Linked DNA regions of Homo sapiens: region 1 is linked to region 2. The links come from fine-mapping of genetic effects on gene expression. Tissue or cell type: whole blood. Region 2 holds a variant in brackets; the other region holds the start of a gene. All regions are shown on one strand. Distances are between the middles of the regions.

What was found. PIP is the estimated chance that this variant, and not a neighbour inherited with it, causes the effect.
Region 1: it holds the start of ENO2, and the variant in region 2 is fine-mapped to the expression of ENO2 in whole blood (TOPMed, PIP above 0.99).

The regions. Positions count from the first base shown.
Region 1 is chr12:6,911,530-6,917,067 of GRCh38, forward strand. ENO2 (enolase 2) reads left to right here and starts at 3,051. Exons shown (of 12, transcript NM_001975.3): 1 at 3,051-3,130; 2 at 4,292-4,388; 3 at 4,888-4,983; 4 at 5,142-5,200; 5 at 5,509-5,538. The coding sequence starts at 4,304. LRRC23 (leucine rich repeat containing 23) reads left to right here. Exons shown (of 8, transcript NM_001135217.2): 7 at 1,201-1,498; 8 at 2,362-2,700. The coding sequence ends at 1,474. RefSeq lists enhancers at 2,454-2,523, 2,554-2,723, 3,402-4,043, 4,044-4,683 and silencers at 2,834-3,323, 2,855-3,045.
Region 2 is chr12:6,840,577-6,846,760 of GRCh38, forward strand. It overlaps GNB3 (G protein subunit beta 3), which reads left to right and starts at 349. Exons shown (of 10, transcript NM_002075.4): 1 at 349-457; 2 at 682-768; 3 at 1,010-1,048; 4 at 2,394-2,500; 5 at 2,598-2,661; 6 at 2,787-2,949; 7 at 3,056-3,122; 8 at 3,201-3,402; 9 at 5,010-5,226. The coding sequence starts at 712. It also overlaps a transcript of CDCA3 not described here. The variant C/A (reference allele first, on the strand shown) is at 4,078.

The sequences.
Region 1 (5,538 bases), 71 kb after region 2:
GTCTCAATGATTGGCAGGTGCCTCTGGGGCCAGAGATGCTAAGCATCCAACAATGTATGGCAGAGTCCAGTACAAAGTTCCTGTAGCCCTCCTGGTGAGAAACACTGCATGAGGCTCAGCACGACCATGAGATCAGGCTGAAACACTTAAATAGATTTCATAAAAGCTTAAAGCCAGAACATGAAAATAAATAAAATTCCAGGCATGGTGGCTCACGCCTGTAATCCCAGCACTTTGGGGGGGCCAAGGCAAGAGGACTGCTTGAGGCCAGGCGTTCAAGACAAACCTGGGCAACATAGTGAGACCCAGTCTCTACAAAAAATTTAAACATTAGCCAGGTGTGGTGGCACATGCCTGGAGGTACTTAGGAAGCTAAGGTGAGAGGATCACTTGAGCCCAGGAATTCAAGGCTGCAGTGAGCTATGATCATGCCACTGCACCCCCAACCGGGGTGACATAGTGAGACCCTGTCTCAATAAAAATAAAATAAAAACAGAGTATCATATAATGAGGCACATTAGGAGATGAAGTTTATTCTTCAGGTTGGGAGGCTCCAACCCATCCATAGCCTTAGGTTCTCTTTGTGGAGAGCACGAACCGAGCATCCACCACCCTAAACTCCAGCTTAGATCCCAGTTCCTTGTCCACTGACCTAGGTCCTACAGGGTGGAGTGCAGTGGCTCGATCTCGGCTCACTGTAATCTCAAACTCCTGGGGTCAAGCAATCCCTCCTCCTCAGCTAAGTAGCAAGGACTACAGGTGTATGCCATCACGCCCAGCTAATTTTTTTATTTTTAGCTTTTGTACAGATGGGGTCTCGCTATGTTGCCCAGGCTGGGTCCTACCTTCTACCCTCCATTTAGGTGTGATCACAGAAAATGTCTCTCCCTGTGAGGAAAATTTGCCCTCTCCTCCCCAGCTACAAGACAGGGTTGTGGCCTAGCTTTGCTGCACCAAAAGAACACATGAATGTATTACAGAGTAGAATATGGCACTTAGGGATTCCTTGAAGGGCAGAAGCAGGACCAGAGCGGGGTCACACAGCACCTCTGCAGTAAATCTGGCAAGGCTTGGCAGGCCAGTCCTCACAGTGTTTCTAGGGACACTGGAACCCCGAGAGTCCCCCAGAGGCCCCATTCCTAGCAACTGGCAACCAAAGCCCATTATTCCTGCATGAACCCCTCCTGACCACACTGGCAGGGGCAACATGGTGGCCAACCTGGGGGAGCTGGCCAAGCTTCGAGACCTGCCCAAGCTGCGAGCGTTGGTGCTGCTTGATAACCCATGCACGGACGAAACCAGCTACCGCCAGGAGGCCCTGGTGCAGATGCCATACCTTGAACGCCTGGACAAGGAATTCTATGAGGAGGAGGAACGGGCTGAGGCTGATGTGATTCGACAGAGGCTGAAGGAAGAAAAGGAGCAGGAGCCTGAGCCCCAGCGTGACCTGGAACCCGAACAGTCATTGATCTAGCAGCAGTTCTAGCCTCTAAAGATAGTAAGGAAGCCTGCAGGGAGGCAGTGGGAGGAGGCCAAGGGCTGGGCAGGTAGGGGAAGAGGCAAGAGGGGAAGCTGCTGCAGAAGGAGGTGGGAGAGGAAAGCATCAGACAAGCAGGACCCTTAAAGAGAGGAGGGTTAGGAGTCAGGGAGAGGAAAAGGGACCCAAGGGGCCTGGGACCAGCTGAGAAAGACTTAGGAGGCCAGAAGAGTAAGTGAAAAGAATTGGGGTGGCAGGCAGAGGAGTTGGTGGGGGGTGGGGCAGCCATACCTGACACAGAGTGAAGTCGGCTAGGAAAGGACAGGTGTGGGTGCATGGTAGGGGCTGCAGGGGAAAGTTGGTGGTGTATGCAGCTGGACCTAGGAGAGAAGCAGGAGAGGAAGATCCAGCACAAAAAATCTGAAGCTAAAAACAGGACACAGAGATGGGGGAAGAAAAGAGGGCAGAGTGAGGCAAAAAGAGACTGAAGAGATGAGGGTGGCCGCCAGGCACTTTAGATAGGGGAGAGGCTTTATTTACCTCTGTTTGTTTTTTTTTTTTTTTTTTTTTTTTTTTTGCGAGGTAGTCTTGCTTAGTCTCCAGGCTGGAGTGCAGTGGCACAATCTCAGCTCACTGCAACTTCCACCTCCTGGGTTCAAGCAATTCTCCTGCCTCAGCCTCCCGAGTAGCTGGGACTACAGGCGCATGCAACCGCGCCTGGCTAATTTTTGTATTTTTAGTAGAAACGGGGTTTCACCACGTTAGCCAGGATGGTCTGGATCTCCTGACCTCGTGATCTGCCCGCCTCCGCCTTCCAAAGTGCTGGGATTACAGGGGTGAGCCACAGCGCCTGGTCCCTATTTACTTCTGTCTTCTACCTCCAGGAGATCAAAGACGCTGGCCTTCAGACCTGATCAGACTCCCAGGGGCAGCCACCACATGTATGACAGAGAACAGAGGATGCCTGTTTTTGCCCCAAAGCTGGAAATTCATCACAACCTGAGGCCCAGGATCTGCTCTGTGCCGGTCCTCTGGGCAGTGTGGGGTGCAGAATGGGGTGCCTAGGCCTGAGCGTTGCCTGGAGCCTAGGCCGGGGGCCGCCCTCGGGCAGGCGTGGGTGAGAGCCAAGACCGCGTGGGCCGCGGGGTGCTGGTAGGAGTGGTTGGAGAGACTTGCGAAGGCGGCTGGGGTGTTCGGATTTCCAATAAAGAAACAGAGTGATGCTCCTGTGTCTGACCGGGTTTGTGAGACATTGAGGCTGTCTTGGGCTTCACTGGCAGTGTGGGCCTTCGTACCCGGGCTACAGGGGTGCGGCTCTGCCTGTTACTGTCGAGTGGGTCGGGCCGTGGGTATGAGCGCTTGTGTGCGCTGGGGCCAGGTCGTGGGTGCCCCCACCCTTCCCCCATCCTCCTCCCTTCCCCACTCCACCCTCGTCGGTCCCCCACCCGCGCTCGTACGTGCGCCTCCGCCGGCAGCTCCTGACTCATCGGGGGCTCCGGGTCACATGCGCCCGCGCGGCCCTATAGGCGCCTCCTCCGCCCGCCGCCCGGGAGCCGCAGCCGCCGCCGCCACTGCCACTCCCGCTCTCTCAGCGCCGCCGTCGCCACCGCCACCGCCACCGCCACTACCACCGTCTGAGTCTGCAGTCCCGAGGTGAAGCCCCCGCCAGGCCCAGAGCCCCTGTGGCCCCCTCCCTTCGCCGCGGCGCCCCTGCCTCCTTTACCCGGTGCCGCTGCGCACCTCTCCGCATCTCTGGCCCGGTGCAGCTGCGCACCTGCTCCGCCGCCCGCGCCCAGGGCGCCTTCCCTCCCTGGCCTTCCCCGCCCGCTGCCTTCGCTTTCTGGCCCTCTGCGCGCCTATCTCTAACTGCGCCTCTCCACCCTTGCCTGCCTCTCTCCCGGTGCTCGCCCTCATCTACGGTTCTATTTGTTTCTAAGTTGGGAGCCTCTCCGGGCGGTGCATTTTTATCCTAGAGCGTCCCTTTTGGTTTGCATTTGGGGAAATGTCTTCTCTCACCGTTCCTCACCTCCCCCAGACTTCCCTTGGACTCCCCTCTCTCCTGCTCTTCCCCACGGCGCCCCTCTCCGTTCGCGCTTCCTCCCCTCTGCTGCACGGGGGAGAGATGGAAGAAGTGGGGATCTGTCGAGGCGCAGAGGGGAGGACAGGCCCAGCTCGCCTCCACTCCCCACCGGCTCTTATCCTCTTCACTTCCCGCTGCAACCCCCAGGGACTGCAGGGCCTTTCTCAGGACCCTCTTCCCCGACACCTGTATTGCATGCGCCTTTCGCGGGAAGAGGAGGGATACACGTTTGGGAGAGAGTGGGACCTTGGGGAAGGGGCAGTGTTCAGGCAGCTGGGGTGTTAAGTTGGGGAGGTATGGGGGCTCTGGAAGAGAGGCCCAGGCAGCCCATCCTCTTCTTGGCTCCCAGGAGAAATGCAAGCCTGGCAGCCATTCCGCTCTGAGGAGATCTGGGGGAACCCCACCGGCTGGCCAAGCTGCAAAGAGGCGCGGGAACCACTGTCGTGCCCCTCCCCTCCTCACTGCAGTGTTCTCCCATCTCATCATTTGATCTTACCCCGCCCCCCACTGCAGTGACCTCCCCTTCCTCACTGCATTGACCTTCTCCTCTTCCCAGGGGGGAGGGGGAATCCCTTCTACAGCCCTAGACTGCAGCCAGCGCCTCCCTACCCACCCCCCACCCACTGCAGTAACCTCTTTCCCATCCCTCCCAGCCTCCCGCCCCGCCCATTGATCTCAGGCTCCACCCCTCTAAGCCTCTTATCTTTCTCCTTCCTTCCCTTCCACCCGAGGAGATCCCAGCCATCATGTCCATAGAGAAGATCTGGGCCCGGGAGATCCTGGACTCCCGCGGGAACCCCACAGTGGAGGTGGATCTCTATACTGCCAAAGGTAATGGGTGTGGCATGGGCCTTCCTACAGCCCTAGCTTTTCCACGGCCAGGCTGGGTTCGGCCAGGGGTTCGGAGGCCTTTTTTGATACCCAGGGGTATGGGGTGCTGGGCCAGGCTCACAAGCCTGGGTTGTGGCGGTTGGATCCTCCTTGTCCGGGGAGCCAGGGTAGGTGGGTCTGTGTTCGAGTTTAGCGTGTGAGGCATGTCCTGCCTCCGTGTGTCTGCCTGTGCACTTGCATGTGTGCAGACGTGTGCTGCAAGCAATTTTCTTTCTGCGGGCTCCCACTTGTGCATGTGGGGCCTCAGATGGGTGGATGAGGAGGCCACTTCTTGTGCATCTGCCTCAGTGTGTGTGTGGGGTGGGGGTGGGGGGATGTTAGGGAGCAGTGTGGGGAGAGAGCTAGATGTGGTAGGCAGGCAGTTTAGAGCCAGAAGGCTGAAGGACTCCCTGGCCCCTGTGTCCTCTTCACTCCCTCTCATTCCATGTTCCTCCTTTAGGTCTTTTCCGGGCTGCAGTGCCCAGTGGAGCCTCTACGGGCATCTATGAGGCCCTGGAGCTGAGGGATGGAGACAAACAGCGTTACTTAGGCAAAGGTGAGGTCCCTTCTCTTTTCCAGACTCTCCCCCACCTCAGCCTTATGCCCCTACCTCACACCAGTCCCCAGTCCTCCTCTAGCATGGCTTCCCCTCCTCCCATTGATCCCTTCCGGCCCCTCCTGGCCCGACCCAGTCCAGCCTCTTCCTTTCCCCAGGTGTCCTGAAGGCAGTGGACCACATCAACTCCACCATCGCGCCAGCCCTCATCAGCTCAGTGAGGCCTGCTCTTTGCTGGGGATAGCAGGGCCAGAGTTCTGGAAGGAATCCCGGAGCAGGGCAGGAGGAAGGGAAGAAAGAAGGCCCACTCTTAGGAATCATGGTTACAAGGGGGAAGGGTGGGGAACAGCTTCCTTAATGCACCCTGCTCCCATGGGAGTTCAGGTCCCCTAATCCAGGTAGGCCCCTGTCACAGGGACCTGGTTGGACCCTGGCCAAATGTGAGCTTGGGTGTGAATGAGGGGACCCTCTGCCTTAGGGCTCAGCCTCCAGCCTGGCCCTGGGTGATGGAGGCTCTGCCCTCAGGGTCTCTCTGTGGTGGAGCAAGAGAAACTG
Region 2 (6,184 bases):
CCAACCCTTAATCCTCACAGCTTTGCTCTAATCCTGTGGGGCCTGATGCTCTTATCTCTGCCTGCAGAGACTGACCAGGGAAGCACCCCTTCACCCCCTCCTCTCTCAGGGCTTGTGGTGGGGGCTGCCCCTCTCTATGGCCCCACACTCCTGCCCCCAACCCTCCTCCCGGCTGGGCCCAAGTCTCTCTGGAATCCGTACACCTCCCTCCCTCCCCCCACCCCTTCCCCCCACCCCTGCCAGCTGATTTCATTTGCCTGACGTTGTGGTTGGCTCTACCCTTCCCTGTCAGGCCCCCCCAACCCCCCGCCGGTCGGGGCCAGGCCAGGCCAGGCCAGCTCCTCTGGCAGCAGAGCCTGGGCAGGTGACGGGCGGGCGCGGGCGTCGCAGCTGAGGGAGTAAGGAGGCTCCCAGGAACCGGAGCTGGAAACCCGGCCGAGGTCCAGCCAGAGCCCAAGTAAGAGGGAGCTGGCCTGGGCTCTGCTCTCCTGGGCTGGGGCGCAGGCAGGGCTCAGGCAGGCTGGGGCTGGACGCAAAGGACCTCAAACTTGGAGGGCCTAGCTGGGGAGAGGGTGCAGCCACCCAGTCGTTTCCCTGTGTCTTGGAGTCTGGTGTGGGCACGAAGGGCAGAAGCACAGCCTGGTGGGGGGTTCCTCAACACCGACCCCATGTTCCTGGCAGGAGCCAGAGTGACCCCTCGACCTGTCAGCCATGGGGGAGATGGAGCAACTGCGTCAGGAAGCGGAGCAGCTCAAGAAGCAGATTGCAGTAACTCCAGAGCCCTACCCCTGGGGCCCCAGAAAACAGCTGGGGACATGAGGAGCGTGGCCCAGGGGGAGGGGGCTGGGTTTGCTCTTGAGTGACTAGAAGTGACCAGGGACTTTCTAAACTTGGTTCGCATATTTGAGACCCCCAAGCCCCAGAGCCCCAAGACCAACCTGCCCTGAAGGCCCATGCACCTGCCACCCCCACCTCGCCCTTGCTCCCCTGATGTCTGCTTTCCCTGCAGGATGCCAGGAAAGCCTGTGCTGACGTTACTCTGGCAGAGGTAAGACCCCCTGTCCCCCGGAAGGCAGGGCATGGGGGGAGGGGAAGGGAGCTCCCCGACCCGCAATAGCGCGTTGCTCCGAGCATTAGTACAGCACGTCCTTGGAGTGAGGAAACCCATTAATTAATTCATTCGACCAACATTTTAGCGGGACCTGCTCTGAGCCAGGCACCATATTGGATGCGAAAGATGCGGACACGGTTCCTATTCTCATCCGTAGAACAAGAGTGACCACAGCCCCCTCCCAGGGCCTTGAAGATGAAGAAGCGATAGTACTTTGTAAATTATAAAGCCCTTGTAGACTCTAGCTGCTAGTTTTCTATGCTGTATTTTGTCAATTCTAAGATGCACATTTCTTCACATTTTGACATCTCTGAAATCAAGGTGCATTCAGCAATGGATCATTGTTTCAATTAGAATTGACAGCATCTTTTCTTTCTTAGTGATGCATCTTAGATTGGATTAAATATGTTAATAGTGAACACTTTTTATGAGCCAGATACTGGGCTAAGCTGCATAAATACCTGATTTCATTGAATTTTCATGATATCTCTGTAAGGTAGGTGCTATGATAAGCCTCATTTTACACCTTGAGTAAACAGACTCAGGGAGGTGAAGCAACTTGCCCAAGATAACAAAGCAGGCCGGGCGCAGTGGTTCACGCCTGTAATCCCAGCCCTTTGGGAGACTGACGTGAAAGGATCACTTGAGCTCAGGAGTTTGAGACCAGCCTGGGCAACATAGTGAGATCTCTTCTTAATATAAAAAAAATTGCTTTTAACTTTTTAAAAAAAGATAGCAATGCAAGTGATGGCAAATCAAGTCTGTTCACTCTGGACCCCCAGCCTAAGTCTAAAATGTGGTTAGAGCTCAAGGGGCATAGTACCACAGATTTCAGGAGGTACAGTTCAGGGTCATGGTGATGCCCCAGGCACCCAGTTAAAAAGCTAGCCGTGCTGCAGCGGTGGGTGCAAGCAGGCTCCTCTCGGCTTGGGAGAGCCAGCTCTGTGCATCTCTTCCCAAATCTGTTTCCAATGACCTCACATTGGCAGCTGGAAACTGGTCAAAGTGCAAGTATTCGTATCGTGGAAATCACCTTCCCACCTTCCTCACCAACACTGGAGAGGTGCTTGTTAAACACTTACAAGCAACACACCTCTGGCCATGCATGCATCTCTTTCCCACATCAGTCTAAGACACTCCAGGGCAGAGACTTATTTCTCTAAGGCTGGGGGCCTGACCTAGAGCCTGGCACAGAGCGGGAACTTGTATAGATCAGTGGCAGTGACAGACATCTGGGCACGTAACCTGCTCACCCTGATATTCAGTGCCCCTCTCTCTGCAGCTGGTGTCTGGCCTAGAGGTGGTGGGACGAGTCCAGATGCGGACGCGGCGGACGTTAAGGGGACACCTGGCCAAGATTTACGCCATGCACTGGGCCACTGATTCTAAGTGAGGCTTGGGGGGGAACCGAGAATGGGAGGGTGAGAGCGGGAGTGAGGAAGGCGGGAAGGGGAGGCTTGCATGATATGGGATGCCCTCTCCCCAGGCTGCTGGTAAGTGCCTCGCAAGATGGGAAGCTGATCGTGTGGGACAGCTACACCACCAACAAGGTACCAGCCCTGCCTCCCTGAGCCTCCACCACTGCATCCTTCCTAAGGGCGCCATGCCTACCCTCCTGTGCCCAGCTGGGAGCTTGGCTCCGGTCCCATCTCTGCTCAAACCACCCTCCCTGCAGGTGCACGCCATCCCACTGCGCTCCTCCTGGGTCATGACCTGTGCCTATGCCCCATCAGGGAACTTTGTGGCATGTGGGGGGCTGGACAACATGTGTTCCATCTACAACCTCAAATCCCGTGAGGGCAATGTCAAGGTCAGCCGGGAGCTTTCTGCTCACACAGGTGAGGGAGAGACCCTCTCCTCCCCTCCTGAGGGGTTCAGGGAACCCTGGGCTTCCAGTGGGCTGTGGCTCTGCAGCCAGGGCACTGTCCTTCTAACCGCCTCCAGGTTATCTCTCCTGCTGCCGCTTCCTGGATGACAACAATATTGTGACCAGCTCGGGGGACACCACGTGGTGAGGCTGAACATTGCTGGTGCTGGGGCTTGGGAGTGGGCCCGGCCTTTCTCTAACAGTCTCCCTCCATTTTGGCAGTGCCTTGTGGGACATTGAGACTGGGCAGCAGAAGACTGTATTTGTGGGACACACGGGTGACTGCATGAGCCTGGCTGTGTCTCCTGACTTCAATCTCTTCATTTCGGGGGCCTGTGATGCCAGTGCCAAGCTCTGGGATGTGCGAGAGGGGACCTGCCGTCAGACTTTCACTGGCCACGAGTCGGACATCAACGCCATCTGTGTGAGTGCACCCCCCACCCCAGCTTCACTCCAACTCCTTCCCCGACACTCCCCACAACACATACAATACACATCCTCTGCCCCTCCCATAGCTTCCCTAGCCCTTTCTTACTGTATTTTTTTTTTTTTTTTTTTTTTTTTTGAGACAGAGTCTCACTTTGTCGCCCAGGCTGGAGTGCAGTGGTGCAATCTTGGCTCACTGCAACCTCTGCCTCCTGGGTTGGAGCAATTCTCCTGCTTCAGCCTCCTGAGTAGCTGGGATTACAGGTGTGCGCCACCATGCCCGGCTAATTTTTGTATTTTTAGTAGAGATGGGGTTTTGCCATGTTGGCCAGGCTGGTCTTGAACTCTTGACCTGAGGTGATCCTCCCACCTCAGCTTCCCAGAGTGCAGTGCTGGGATTACAGATGTGAGCCACTGTGCCCAGTCTTCCCTAGCCCTTTCTTTCTTTCCTTTTTTTGGAGACAGAGTCTCACACTGTTGCCCAGTCTGGATGCAGTGGTGCTATCATAGCTCACCGCAGTCTCAACCTCCAGGGTTCAACCAATCCTCCCACCACAGCCTCCTGAGTAGCTGGGACTACAGATGCGTGTGACCACGCTTGGCTAATGTTTTGATTTTTGTGTAGAGATGGGTTCCCACTATGTTGCCCAGGCTGAGCTGGAACTTCTGAGCT[C/A]AAGCGATCCTCCTGCCTCAGTCTCCCAAAATATTGGGATTACAGGCATGAGCCACCACGCCTAGCCCATTTTATCACGTTTGCTTTATCATTTTTTCTCTGTAGAGAAATAGCCATAGATACACACACACATACACACTTAGATGTAGATATACATTTTCTTTCTGTGTCTTTTGAAAGTAGGTTGCAGACATCATGTTTCTTTACCCCTTAAGTACTTCCCGAAACAAAGCCCTTCTGTAGCATAATCACTGTATGATTCTTAAGATCAGGAAACTCAACATTGACACAATACTACAGTCTACAGTCTATATTCAAATTTCACCAATAGCCTCAAAAATGTCCATAATAGCTCATGTTTTTTTCTGTCCAGGATCCAATCCAGAAACGTGCATTACCTTTCCTCGCCATATCTTTTTCGTCACCACCTTTAAACTGGAACTGTTTTCCCACCTTTGTCTTTTATGTCATTGACGTTTTTGAAGAGTACAAACCAGTTTTCTGTAGACTCTCCCTCCGTTTGAGCTTATCTGACATTTGCTCGCCGTGAGATCCAGGCCTTGCATTTGTACTGGACCCTGTTCTTACACACCCTGATCCAGCCCACTTGTGTAGTCTGGGAGTCTGGGACAACCTCCGTCCGCCCTTCTAGCCGGGTCACTGCAGGCAAGCCTTGGTGCTCTTGCCTGCGACGTGGAAATGATGCCTGCCTGCAGCGCTGTATAGTGCAGAGCGGGCGAGGGGCATAGGGAAGTCACTGGCACGTGGTATGTGTTGGCAGGGCTGCTTCTCACCCCAAACCAAGGGAGGGACAGGCAGGGAGGCTGAGAGCAGCGGCTTGCCCTGGAGCTGTCAGGTGGGAGGCAGAGGGCGGGAGAGGCTGTGGGCTGCCCAGGTCTGATCCCTGACCCACTTGCCACCCGTGCCCTCAGTTCTTCCCCAATGGAGAGGCCATCTGCACGGGCTCGGATGACGCTTCCTGCCGCTTGTTTGACCTGCGGGCAGACCAGGAGCTGATCTGCTTCTCCCACGAGAGCATCATCTGCGGCATCACGTCCGTGGCCTTCTCCCTCAGTGGCCGCCTACTATTCGCTGGCTACGACGACTTCAACTGCAATGTCTGGGACTCCATGAAGTCTGAGCGTGTGGGTAAGGGCCAGCCCTGGCTGCTGCTTCCTCAGCTGGAAGGACCCTCCCCAGCCCTCCCTCCCCATTCTGTACCCCCCATCAGCTCCCATTTCGGACTCTCTTACTGCTGTCCCTTGTCACTGGGTGACTCCACCCCTGGAATCCAGTACCCCTTGGTTCCCAACTAGGACTGTTTTCCCTCAGTGTTGCTCTAAGCAGCCTCTCTCCACTGCCCAATGCCATGACTGCTCCCTGCCCTAGGAGATCTGTGGACCATGACTGTCCAGTCAGTTCTGGGTTCCTGGCATTTCAGGGGCACCCACTGAGAGGCAAGACAGCCTCAGGGAAACATGGAATCAAGGCAGAATCAAGGAGATCTGGAGTGGCCCGAGGGCCCTGACTGCAGCCTAGGGCTCATCTAAGACTAGCCTGAAGTTGGTCAGATAGGATGGCTTCTTCTCTATCAAGAGGCCAGGTGCTGATGAAAATAACACTGGCCAGGGGCAGAATCCAAATCCTAATTCTGTTGCTCACTTTCTGAGTGTCCTTGCACAAGTCACTCCTCCATGGGCCTCAGTTTCTTCATCTGGAAGCAAAGAAATAGGATGAACGGTTGCCTTCTCTTTTCCAGCACCTGTCAAGGTGCCCTCGGGTTTTTTCATAGTACACAGATGCTTCCAGCCTTTCTCTGTCTGATCCCAGCCCTCCCCCAACCAAAGCTCTTGACAGAGAACCCCCTGCCCTACAGCTAATCCTCTTTCAGTCTCTTAGCCTTCTTCAGGGGTTGAGCCCAGTCTACCGAGTCTAGGATCCCTGCATGCATGTGCTCAAGCACACATGCACACACACACGTACACACACCCACACATGCATACACATGCACACATATCCCCCCACACACCCACATACACACACACACCCACACACCCACACATACACTTACACGCATGCACACACTGCTTTCCAAATCAGCTTGGAG